2 separate regions of the Homo sapiens genome follow, and region 1 is linked to region 2. The links come from fine-mapping of genetic effects on gene expression. A gene starts in region 2. The other region holds a variant in brackets. All regions are shown on one strand. Distances are between the middles of the regions. Region 1 has its middle 34 kb from the start of SLC35D3. Region 2 holds the start of SLC35D3 (solute carrier family 35 member D3).

Region 1 (5,372 bases), 33 kb before region 2:
CACTTTTCTGCCTAGAATTTCTCTGCCCCCGTCCCTATCATGCATATAAATGGCATTCTCGATGCCAAGATTATACCTATGTTCACTTATATTAGGATTGTCGTGCAACCACCAGAAGCATGACTGACATCAATAGAGGGAAATAAGGCATTGTAACCTAACCAGATAGAAATATGACTAAATTGAAGTATTTCCACTTTTTAAATAATAACTTTATTTAATTTTTAATAACTGAAAAGATGGGAAAGAAGCAAAATATCAGACTCATCAAGAAATGATTCCACAGATCCTTATCTGGCAGCTCAGAATAATTGAGTGACTTGGCCAAGGTCATGGTATTAATGGATGAAAGGGATTTGAACCATGACCACCTGGCATCAGAGTCTAAACTCTACATCATTTAACTTCTCTGAAAAACTAAGTCCCTTATTCTATCCCCACACCCTGTAGTTCATCCTTACTCTATTCATGGCTTTTAAGAGCTGAAGCCCAAGCGCTAGAGCCCAGAGCTAAAAGAGCACTGTAACAAGCCCTCTGGGGCTCCAGGTGTCACAGGCACCCCCACCTGGATGCTGCTTAATCGCCTAGATGCTTACTCTGGCCGGAGAAACTTTGACTTCACCTGTGGATGTCAAGCTCCTGCAGGTTCTTAGGAGCGTTCTGGTTGTTGGCAAGATTGCCTTCCTTTGGGCTTTTTGAGTTGCCGGCTTTGGTGGTGAACCAGTGCATTGGCTCCTGACTGCTACTTACTTTTCAGGGCTTAGTGAAAAATGACAATGTGGGGTCCCTTTTGCAAAAACCAAGAGAAAGGATTTTTCTTTCTCCCCCTCACGGTTTCTCTCTTGCCCCTTCCTGGTGCTTGTAATTTGCTATGTAATGCCACACGCCCACCGGCACAATACTGCAAGGTGAGTGCAGATCCTCAGAAGCAAGGGGTTGGCGTGGGGGGCAGGGGGTGAGCATGCGCATGAGACCACCAGGGCCTGCACTGGGGCAGGGGGTGGTTGCAGTGGGGGAACCTGGAACTGGGTGGGTGGATGGTGGGGGAACCCGGGACTGGGTGGTCGGGGGGAGCCTGGGACTGGGTGGGGGGTGGGAGGGGAGCCTGGGGCTGCATGGGTAGGTGGTAGGGGAGTCTGAGAGTGGGTGGGTAGGTGGTGGGGGAGTCTGGGACTGGGTGGGTGGGTGGGAAGGGAGCCTGGGGCTGGGTGGGCGGTGGTGGGGGAGCCTGGGACTGGGTGGGTGGATGGTGGGGGAGAGCCTGGGACTGGGTGGGTGGGTGGGGGGGTGGAAGGGGAGCCTGCAGCCAGGGCCAGGAAAGGCAGGGGGGTGGAAGGGGAGCCTGCAGCCAGGGCCAGGAAAGGCAGGGAGGTGGCGGGAGGCTCCAAGGTCCCAGCTTCTGCTCCATCATCCCATTAGGACTTCACTTAAAAGACACCATGTATTCAAAGATAAATCAGAATTCCAAGACGGTGGCTGCAGACATTGGGAGTGCGGGGCCCCCTTCTGGGCTCAGAGGCTGTGTGCCAGCACTAGTCGCAGGCCTATGCAGCCGGCCCTGCCCCAGCTCCTCTTTCTCCATTGCAGTGCCTCCTCCTTGAGCTCCAGTCGGCCTGCATTGGGCCGTAATTAACTTTTTTCTTCCTCCCCTCCTAACCACCCCAGCCCACAGCCCACAGCCCACTACCCACAACCACTGAGCTGGCTGAGATAAGCACAAACAGCCACAAGGAAAGCCAAGAGGCCCTTCTGTGTGAGGCCGACTAGAGTCCCAGAGTGCATTCCACTTAATTACCGGGAGAAATTCTCTAGAACTGCTTTGGATACTATTCCTAGAACCAATTAGCCCGAACCTTTCATTTACATGCAACTCGAAGATGCAAAAACAAATAACTATGGTACTGTATTTTAACAGCTTAAACAGCTCTGTTTGTTTAGCTAAAACAGATGAATAGCTTTCCAAAAATACACAGAAGAGCACTTCCGGCCTGATGAATGCATAACAATGACAGCTGCGAAGTCA[C/A]AAAGGAAGTACCATTTAGGTGGCATTTGCTAACAAGTTGTATTTTAGGAGAGAAAGGAAAAAGTTAACATAATTAAAGTCAAAGCCAAAGTAGAAACCTTTTCCCATCTACTCGATTTTATAAATTAACAACTTGATTAGCAGTTTGAAATATGATCTGGTTGCCATCAGCCAGGAGCAGGGTAGAGCATTTCATAAGGGAAGGCTCCATCTCAGAGGACTTTTTTGACTTTACATTTAAATAGAAATTATATACATGACATTATTCTATAATTGTGTGACTATAACATTTGCTTTTGCTTTCATAAAGATATATGTTAACAATGGGATACAGGCCGGGCATAGTGGCTCACACTTGTAATCCCAGCACTTTGGGAGGCCAAGGCGGGTGGATCACATGAGGCCAGGAGTTCAAGACCAGCCTGGACAACATGGCAAAACCCCATCTCTACTAAAAATACAAAAAAAAAAAAAAAAAAATTAGTCGGGCATGGTGGCGCATGCCTGTAGTCCCAGCTACTAGAGAGGCTGAGGTGGAGGTTGCAGTGAGCTGAAATTACATCACTGCACTCCTGAGATCACGTCACTGTTTTTTGAAACAGAGTGAGACTCTGTTTAAAAAAACAAAGAAACAAAAAAAAAAAACCTATCAGTTACATATATATGCTTAGGAGCCATATTTAGAAAGCAGAATTTCTACAAATAGGCAGGTGAGTTTCTCAATTCCAGTGAATAGTTAAAAGCTATGCTAAAAAATATAAAACCAATTTTCAAATATTTTTATTTTAAAATTATGTGCTCAAAATAAGTTAAGAGTTTCATGAACTTTGAATTCATGCAAAGATTTTAAATTTTTATTTTGTTGTTTTACTTCTCATGTCTCATTCAAAGATGGCTTTTAAATTTTAACTTAATTAATTTTCCACGCAAAAAGCCTAATCTTACCAAGGATGATTTTGAATTACATTGGTAACAATGTAAACCTGATAGCAAACATTTCTTGCTATTAATAGAGATCTGTCAATTTGCAAATGAATAGACTTATCCGAGAAATGGCCTGTTTCTGAATGACACTCGAGATGTTCATGTGTATTACACACAAAATAAGGTTACACACAAAATAAAGACCCTTAGCCATTTTGAAAGTGCTGAGAGATAGTATACTCCAGTTTAGAGAGAACTGAACTACATTATTCCAGCTCTAAGGACAGTTTAATTTAATTTGGGAAGAGGAAGCAACATTTGCAGCTAAAACAATGTTAATGATGGAAACCGGGGACACAGAATCAAAGTGCCCAGGCTTTATCTTAAGTCCTCTCCCCTTTTTCCAAATTGTCCCCTTCCTATCTTCTGATCTTCACCTGATTTATAAACCTTGAATTCTAATCTTAATTCCTTTCTTGATTAAACCCCTGAATAAAAATCAGCCCCTCCAACACACTGTCTCACAACCAAACATGTATTATTATTTAGCCTGCTTTGGTGTTAATTGACAAAACAAAACTCAAGACAAAAACACTGGGTTCTAAATGTTGTGCTGGTGAGAGTGAGTCAATGGTCAGTTTATAACACAGAGGGGCCAGCCACAGTCAAAACTGAATTAACTCTTGTGTGCTCTTTCAGTTCTCCCTTATTTCCCTACTTGACTGGTACTCCCTTCCTCTTCCCCCACAGCCCTCTCTACACCCTACTCCCATCCTTGCCCATCCTATCGTTCAAAAGAGTTCTTACCACCTTTTTCATTAATGCATCCATCATGCCCTACATTGGTGATCCTCAAAATAGGCACATGTCGTATTATGGAAATCACTTCCCAGATCCTCATCGTCCTTAGGAGCTTCTGCCTAAAACCATTCTTCCTGAGAAAGAGCCTGTGTGTTTCAGGTGTCTTGCTGGTTCTCTGTTCCCATCTCCCCTTTCACAGGCACCCTTTCTTCACAAGAATAAAAAGGAAGGCACCCATCTCATCTACCAGGACTTGCCACCATGGAATGCCTCAGGGCTTAAAAGCCTCTGAGGTACCCAAAATGAAATTAATCTGAAATCCTTGTGTTGGTGTTGAGACCATAAAAGACTCCAACAACTGGGTAACAAATCCTTTTCCAAGTCAAGTAGCTTCCACCTATTTGGAGGAAGGGCTGATAAATCATTAAAAAATTTTTGGCTAGGTTCGGTGGCTCATGCCTGTAATCCCAGCACTTTGGGAGGCCAAGGCGGGTGGATCACGAGGTCAGGAGAGTGAGACCATCCTGGCTAACACAGTGAAACCCCATCTCTACTAAAAATACAAAAATCAGCTGGGCGTGGTGGTGGGTGCCTTAGTCCCAGCTACTGAAGAGGTTAAGGCAGGAGAATTGCTTGAACCCGGGAGGTGGAGGTTGCAGTGAGCCGAGAGCACAACACTGCACTCCAGCCTGGGCAACAAGAGTGAGACTCCATCTCAAACAAACAAACAAAAAAATTCACAATATATCACCATATGATTTTGTTAGGACATAACTTGGAGAAGTGAATGGCTTTCCTACAACAAAACACTTCTCATTTCCAACTACTTATTTTAGTGAACAAAGTTTCTCAACACTTACATATGTAAAAATGACAAATATGATGAGAATTGGAATGTAACCCTATGCCTTTCTGATTTTACTATCATTTGGTCCACTAATGCACTAGCAATATACCAGTGGCGATGAGATGTTGTCTGAGAAAGCACATTTCAAGGCCAGTGCACACTAATTGTTCAAAAAGACCCATGACACAGAATACTTCTCTTTATTGTGTCAGAAATGTTATGAGAATTGGAGCTGAACCCTATCTTTTTCTAAGTAATATTCATCCATGAATATATAAAATAACTTTGTTTTTTGCTTTTTTAATCCTGCTCCTCCTGCAATGAAATAACTTTTTAAATGCCCTATCTTGTTAAGAGATGTGGTTCTAATGGAATTGTATCTTTATATTTAGTAACTACTAATACTTGTAATATAATGATGTTGAGGACCTATGAGTACTAATAACAATTGTAATGATAACTAAATCCAAAAGAAAACCTTTAAACACTTGGAGTCCTATGGTCAAAGAAAATAGAACATCTATTTCAATTTATATACATATTTTTGTTTCAGAAATATATTTAACATTTTTAAGCACAGAAAATACTAGGATAAAATTCTATTGGAGAATGAAATTGAAATATGATTTCAAAGAGTTTAAGGAAAAAGAATAGGGTATAAAATTTCTCTCTCATGTCTACCTGTGCCTTTCTTATCATTATGCTACGTAGCCTCCATTGAATACATTAAAAATAATTTAACAATGTTATTTTAAAGCAAAAGTGGAAATTACCATC
Region 2 (5,372 bases):
CATGGTTTGGGATGTGCAGTGAAACTTGAAAGGACTTGCTTTACAGGTGGTCCCTCTTCTGGCTGGGTTTCAGTTAATTCTGAATTATATTCCAGCCATTGCATTTGCTTGAAAGAATATTGGACACAGTAAAAAAAAGAACAGGTTTGGCATTCAATAATAAATATTATAAAGCAATGAACCAAAACAACTTTTAAAATAATTACTGAAAGCAAACTTCAGACTTCATGATTAAAGCTAAGAACTCATATTTTCAAAATAGCTTTAACAGTTTCTATCAATATATAATACAATAATAGGACACTTATTTTTAAAAAACAAGTGAGTAGAATCAGAGTAAATATGATATTTCAGATGACTATAAACAGTAAACATCAATTCAATATATTTATATATCATTTCAGCAATATACTCTTTGCCCAGCTGGCGATAAAAACTGTAGTTCTATCATCAAAAAATGCATCCCTGAATGTCATCTTTGAACTTACTAAGTGCTGTCATCATTTCTACACTCCATCTTTGGAGGGGGTGGCTTAGGGACTCTTGGTACATGCAGATATTTAGTTATGGTTATAATGACAAAAAGTAAATGTGCCAGGAGTCTGAAGCAGAAACGTTGCCTTACTTTGTTAAGTAGCTTCACATTCTTTTGTCTCTGTGATGCCTCAGGTGAAGTCACACTAAATAATTCACACAGGTGCTAATTTTGTTGCTCTGTGTCAGTACCTTTCAGCTTCTTTCTTTTCTTCCCTTCCCCACTCCTCAAAGAATAAAACGGGGAGGCCTCTCATTAAAACACGTCATTTCTAACATATAAAATAAGTGTATGCACATAGGTACGTACATGCACCTCCTTCTCAAGGACTGGGTAACTCCTCGTTTTCTATCAAATAATCCTTCTTCATATACCTGGTTCCCCTAACCAACCTCCATACCTCGAGGTAAGCATCTTTTAACGACCTCCTGCTCCCTTCTTCAGAGCTCCCAGCCACCAGCGGGACTCCTCGGGGGCTGCCCCTGACCTCTTGCCTGCTCTCCTGAGCGGGGCCACCTGCTGCCTCCCCACCTTCTGACCGGCCATTTCCTCCCTCCCCGGGCAGCTCCTCCATCACGAACGGCAGCTGGTCTCCACTTAGCTGCGCCTCCTCTCCCCGAGGCTGGGCCTCCAGGTCCTCGTAGTTGCTTTGCTTTCTGGTCTCCATGAACTTGGCCACACAGTAAATGATAGAGCCCAGGGTGTTCACCACCACGCCGGCAATGAACAGAGAGGTGGGCTCCACGTCGCTGAAGGCCACCATGCCCACCGTGATGGTGGCGATGCTCTTCACCACACCCACGAAGCTGGTGGTCACGGCCGAATTGATGTAGGTGCAGTGCAGCGTGGTGAAGTTCATGGCGCAGCCGATCAGGATGCAGGCCACGAAGATGCAGACCATGGCCGGGTCCTTCCAGCCCGGGAAGGTCCAGGCGTGGATGGAGTCGGTGCTGGCGAAGGAGCAGATGACCAGCAGCGGGGTGGCAGAGACGGCGATGACGTACTGCGCGGTGAGCGGCCCGTGCTCGGTGTCTGCGCTGGCCTTCTGGATGAGCACCAGGTAGGCAGCGTGCACCAGCACCGCCAGCACTCCCGTGACGTACCCGATGGGGTCGCCCGTCAGGTCGCCGGCTCCTGCGGCGCACGAGGAGGACGGCCGAGCCCGGGCGGGAAGGAAAAAGAGAGAAGACAGCAGGTTGGCGTGGGCGGGGACCCACGGGGAAAACGCGTCGGGTAGGAAAGGAGACTGGGTTCGCGCCCCAGCTCTGCCCACCGGATTCCTGAGTGACAGACGCCCGCCGTCCCTCGGCCACCCGTGTCAAATGCGACAGCCAAACTCAGTGCTCAGAGCGCCTTCCCGCCATATCCCCGGGTCACTCCATCTTCCTCTGTCCAAGACAAAGGCCCCGGAGAGCGCAGATGCCCTCGGGGCAGGTGCTGTGGCTTCCCCGAGCTGGCACCGAGGTCACTTGGGCGCGTGGTACCTGCACCCCGGAGCCCCTGCCCCGTGGGGCACCAAAGGGAGAGGGAGCCCCAGCCAGTGGCCTGCAACCCGGAGCGGGCCAGGCGCGGGGGAGAACGCCTGTTCTGGCCCCCAGTGAAGCTTCCCCCTGCCCAGGCTCTCGTCTCGCTCAGCACCTGGGTCGTCTGCCCCAGGGCCGCAGCCCCCTGCGCAGCACGAGACACCCCGCAGTAGCCCCGGGAACCCTCAGCTTCGCCCCCATCCCCCACCTCCATTCCAGCCCCTCGTGACCCAAGGAAGTTCACGGCCCCCTCCTTCCGGCTTGGTCCAGGCTTGGAGGACTCCAGCTCCCAGGCTCAGGCGGCCCTCCCACCTCTCCCGGAGAATGGGGTGACAGGGGAAGACCAGGAGAGGGGGCGACAGGAAGGGCGATGCCGGGTGAAGCATGGGCGAGGGTCGGAAGCCAGGACATTAGGGGGCAGGGGGACTTGGTGGGGCGCTGGGGAGCTCTCTGGGTCTCGGAAGTCCCTTTTGCGAGCTGAGCGACCACTCTCAAAGCTCTCCGGCTCTCTCTGCCTCAGTCTCCCCATCTGGAAGTGAGGTCGTTGAACTCAGTGATCCCCGCGGTCTCTGCCCGACGGAGCGGGGTGGGTGGGGTCGGCTGGGGGTCGGCGCGGGGGCCCGCTCACCTGCCAGGGCGGCGCCGCAGGTGGTGATGAGCACCGCCGCCAGCACCCCTGGCGAGGGCGCGCCGTTCTTGAGCACCAGGACGCCGATGAGCATGGTGACCAGGGGCAGGCAGCGCTTGAAGACCACGTACATGGGCAGGCTGAGGCCGCGCAGGGACCAGAGCGTGAGGCTGGACTGCAGCGTGGAGAGCACCGCGACCCCCGCGAAGGAGCGCGCCAGGCTCAGACCGAAGGGGGGCACGGCGATGAGCCCGAGGCGCCGCAGCAGCTCCAGGCTCAGCGCCGCGGTGGAGCTGGTCAGGCACTGCACCAGGGTCAGGAAGGAGAACTGGTAGCGGCTGATGAGGAACTTGAGCAAGATGTTGAGGGAGCCCGAGAAGACCCCGTGCGCGATGGCCACCGAGATGCCCAGCACGCGGCCCCGGCACAGCTGCCGCATCGCGCCGGCCTCGCCGCACCCAGCGGTGGCGGAGCTCCGCGACCTGCGCGCGAGGAGCCGGGAGCAGCGGAGTGAGGGCGGCGGGGGCGCCCGCCCAGCGCGGCGGCGAAGGGCAGGGGGCGCCGGCTCGGCTGCAGAGGGCAGCTCCGGCCAGGCGTTCTTGCGGTTAGGCAGCTCTGCGTCCGACTGCCCCGCAGCTCCGGGGAGGCAGTGACGAGGGCGGGGGACTCCGAAAAGTGGCAGAGGTGGCGGGGGGGCCGGTCTGAGAGGAGTGGCGGGAATCCTAGCGACAGCTATTTGTAAGTGGGTGATGAGCCGCGGTGGGTTGTGTCCCGCGCGGTTTCACCGTCAGGGAAGACGCTCTGCGGAGGGAAGCGGGCGGCTGGGCGCCCCGGGGCGGCTGCCGCAGGGCGGGACGGGGGCTCTTGGGGCGCGGCGCCCCTCTCCCCCCACAGAGCCAGCGGCTCTCGCTTGCCCCTTCCTCCTGGCCGAGGGGCTTGGGTTGGAGGGATCGGGACACAGCTAAAGATTTTAGAAACAGCGCATCAGGATCGAGCGCCGTTTATTGGTCGCAACAAGTGACGGCGCCCCCAGCCCCCTCGCCCCGGCGCTGCAGCGGCTTTTTCCACCCACTGTCCCTCCCGGTGCAGCGGCGGGACCTCGTCCAGCTGCCCGCCAGGGAAGCGAAAACCGTCGGTGCCGGCGGGCCCCCGAAGCTCCCGATCCCGGCGACGACGCCCGGGCATCGGAGGAGGAACCCGCGGCCCGGGGCGCTGTCCAGGGGGTGCCTCGGAGCCCGGAAGCTGGCTCCTTCCGGTGCCAGGCCACGCGCACCGCTCTCCGCACGCCTTCCAGAGAGGGTCCCGGGATTATGCGCGCGGCTCCGGGGAAGCTTTCAGGGGGTTCAGTGGTCTCGCCCAGCAGCGGGGCCTGGTGGCGGGGACACATTCGAACTGAGGCAAAGATGAAAATAAGCAAACGCGCAGAAACGAAGTCACTAACACGAGTAGCCACCACCAGGAACCGAGGAGCTCGGGGGCGACGCTTCCCGAAGCGTGGGAGGGGAGGCTGGCTGCGCTCGCAGAATGGGAGAGTAGAGGGGGAGGGGGCGGGAACCCGGGGCCCCTCACCCTGCAGGGAGACTCCGCGTGGCGTTCTCCGGATCCCAGGGAACTGATCCCAGGGAACCCTCACCCTGCGGGACCGTCGTGGGTTGCTTTCGGAAGCAGGACAACCGGCAGGCGGAGGGCGGGGAGAGTCACCACCTCCCTGGGCCAGGGTTCACACCTTTGCACCACAGGACTTGTGAACTGTGTGTTTCCTATATGACTAAGAGAAAAAGGGAATTCTAATTTTGGAGAGGGAGTAAGGCTTCGGTAACTCTTTGTTCTGAATTCAGTTCCCTGGAAAGTAACTCGCGCGGACCTGTAGTTAAATCAGCAGCAGCCAAGGGTTTCGCTCAGCCGAGGTAACCGTTAAGCGCCAGACAGTTTGGTTTTCAGGCGATTTGAAATTTGTGGCCTTGGCCAGGGTTTGGCTATAAGGGAAAGGTTCGAGATCGCTGCGCTCCAGCACCCCTTTCGTTCACCACCAGCAGTTTATTTCTCTTAGCCCCGGGAATCGTAACCTCCTAACCTTTTAGCGCTGCATCACGTTGCCTTAATAGACAGGATCCATTTCTCTCGTGGTTCTTCTGTTTTCTGCCTCTTACTTCCACCTCTGTGCTGAACGCGACACTTCAGCCAAAGTGCTGAAGTCGTGATTTACCGCAACAGAGGAAGAAAAAAAAATTACAGCAGGGATCAGCAGCATCACAGCAGCCCTTCATTTGGGCCAGCATTTGGGGCTCTGGATGCTCACTTTGGTGAGCTCTAGAGAGCTCGGGGTCAACCAGTCCACCAGCTTATGTGCCCGGTGCCTAGGAGGGCCACGTCCCTGCTCCCGACAGGTGGGCACTCAAAAAAAGTTTGTGAATGGCCCAGGGTGCCAACTTTCCAGGAATAGCTGGAAAGCATTATACTGAAACACGTGCTTCCGGTTCTCTGGGGAGCCCTTGGTTTTTGTTGCTAAAACTTGTGGTTACACACTATTGGCTGTTTAAGTGACTCTGTTTTTGTAGAGTTAATGTTATTTAGGAAATAATGAAGTCTGAAGCACCAGTTCAAATTATGTGTATGTGTGTGGTATAGTCAAAATATATTGATTCAAAACTCTGAAAATTAACTTTTTACAGATATCAGCAAATAA

What was found. PIP is the estimated chance that this variant, and not a neighbour inherited with it, causes the effect.
Region 1: its variant is the best candidate, but not a certain one, in a credible set for the expression of SLC35D3 in whole blood (INTERVAL, PIP 0.78).

The regions. Positions count from the first base shown.
Region 1 is chr6:136,953,613-136,958,984 of GRCh38, reverse strand. No RefSeq gene overlaps it. Among named protein-coding and RNA genes, the nearest start is that of SLC35D3, 34 kb to the right of the region's middle. RefSeq lists enhancers at 156-722, 1,859-2,427 and a silencer at 1,400-1,694. The variant C/A (reference allele first, on the strand shown) is at 2,024.
Region 2 is chr6:136,920,182-136,925,553 of GRCh38, reverse strand. SLC35D3 (solute carrier family 35 member D3) reads right to left here and starts at 3,253. Exons shown (of 2, transcript NM_001008783.3): 1 at 2,687-3,253; 2 at 1-1,669. The coding sequence starts at 3,125. The coding sequence ends at 858. RefSeq lists an enhancer at 3,725-4,231.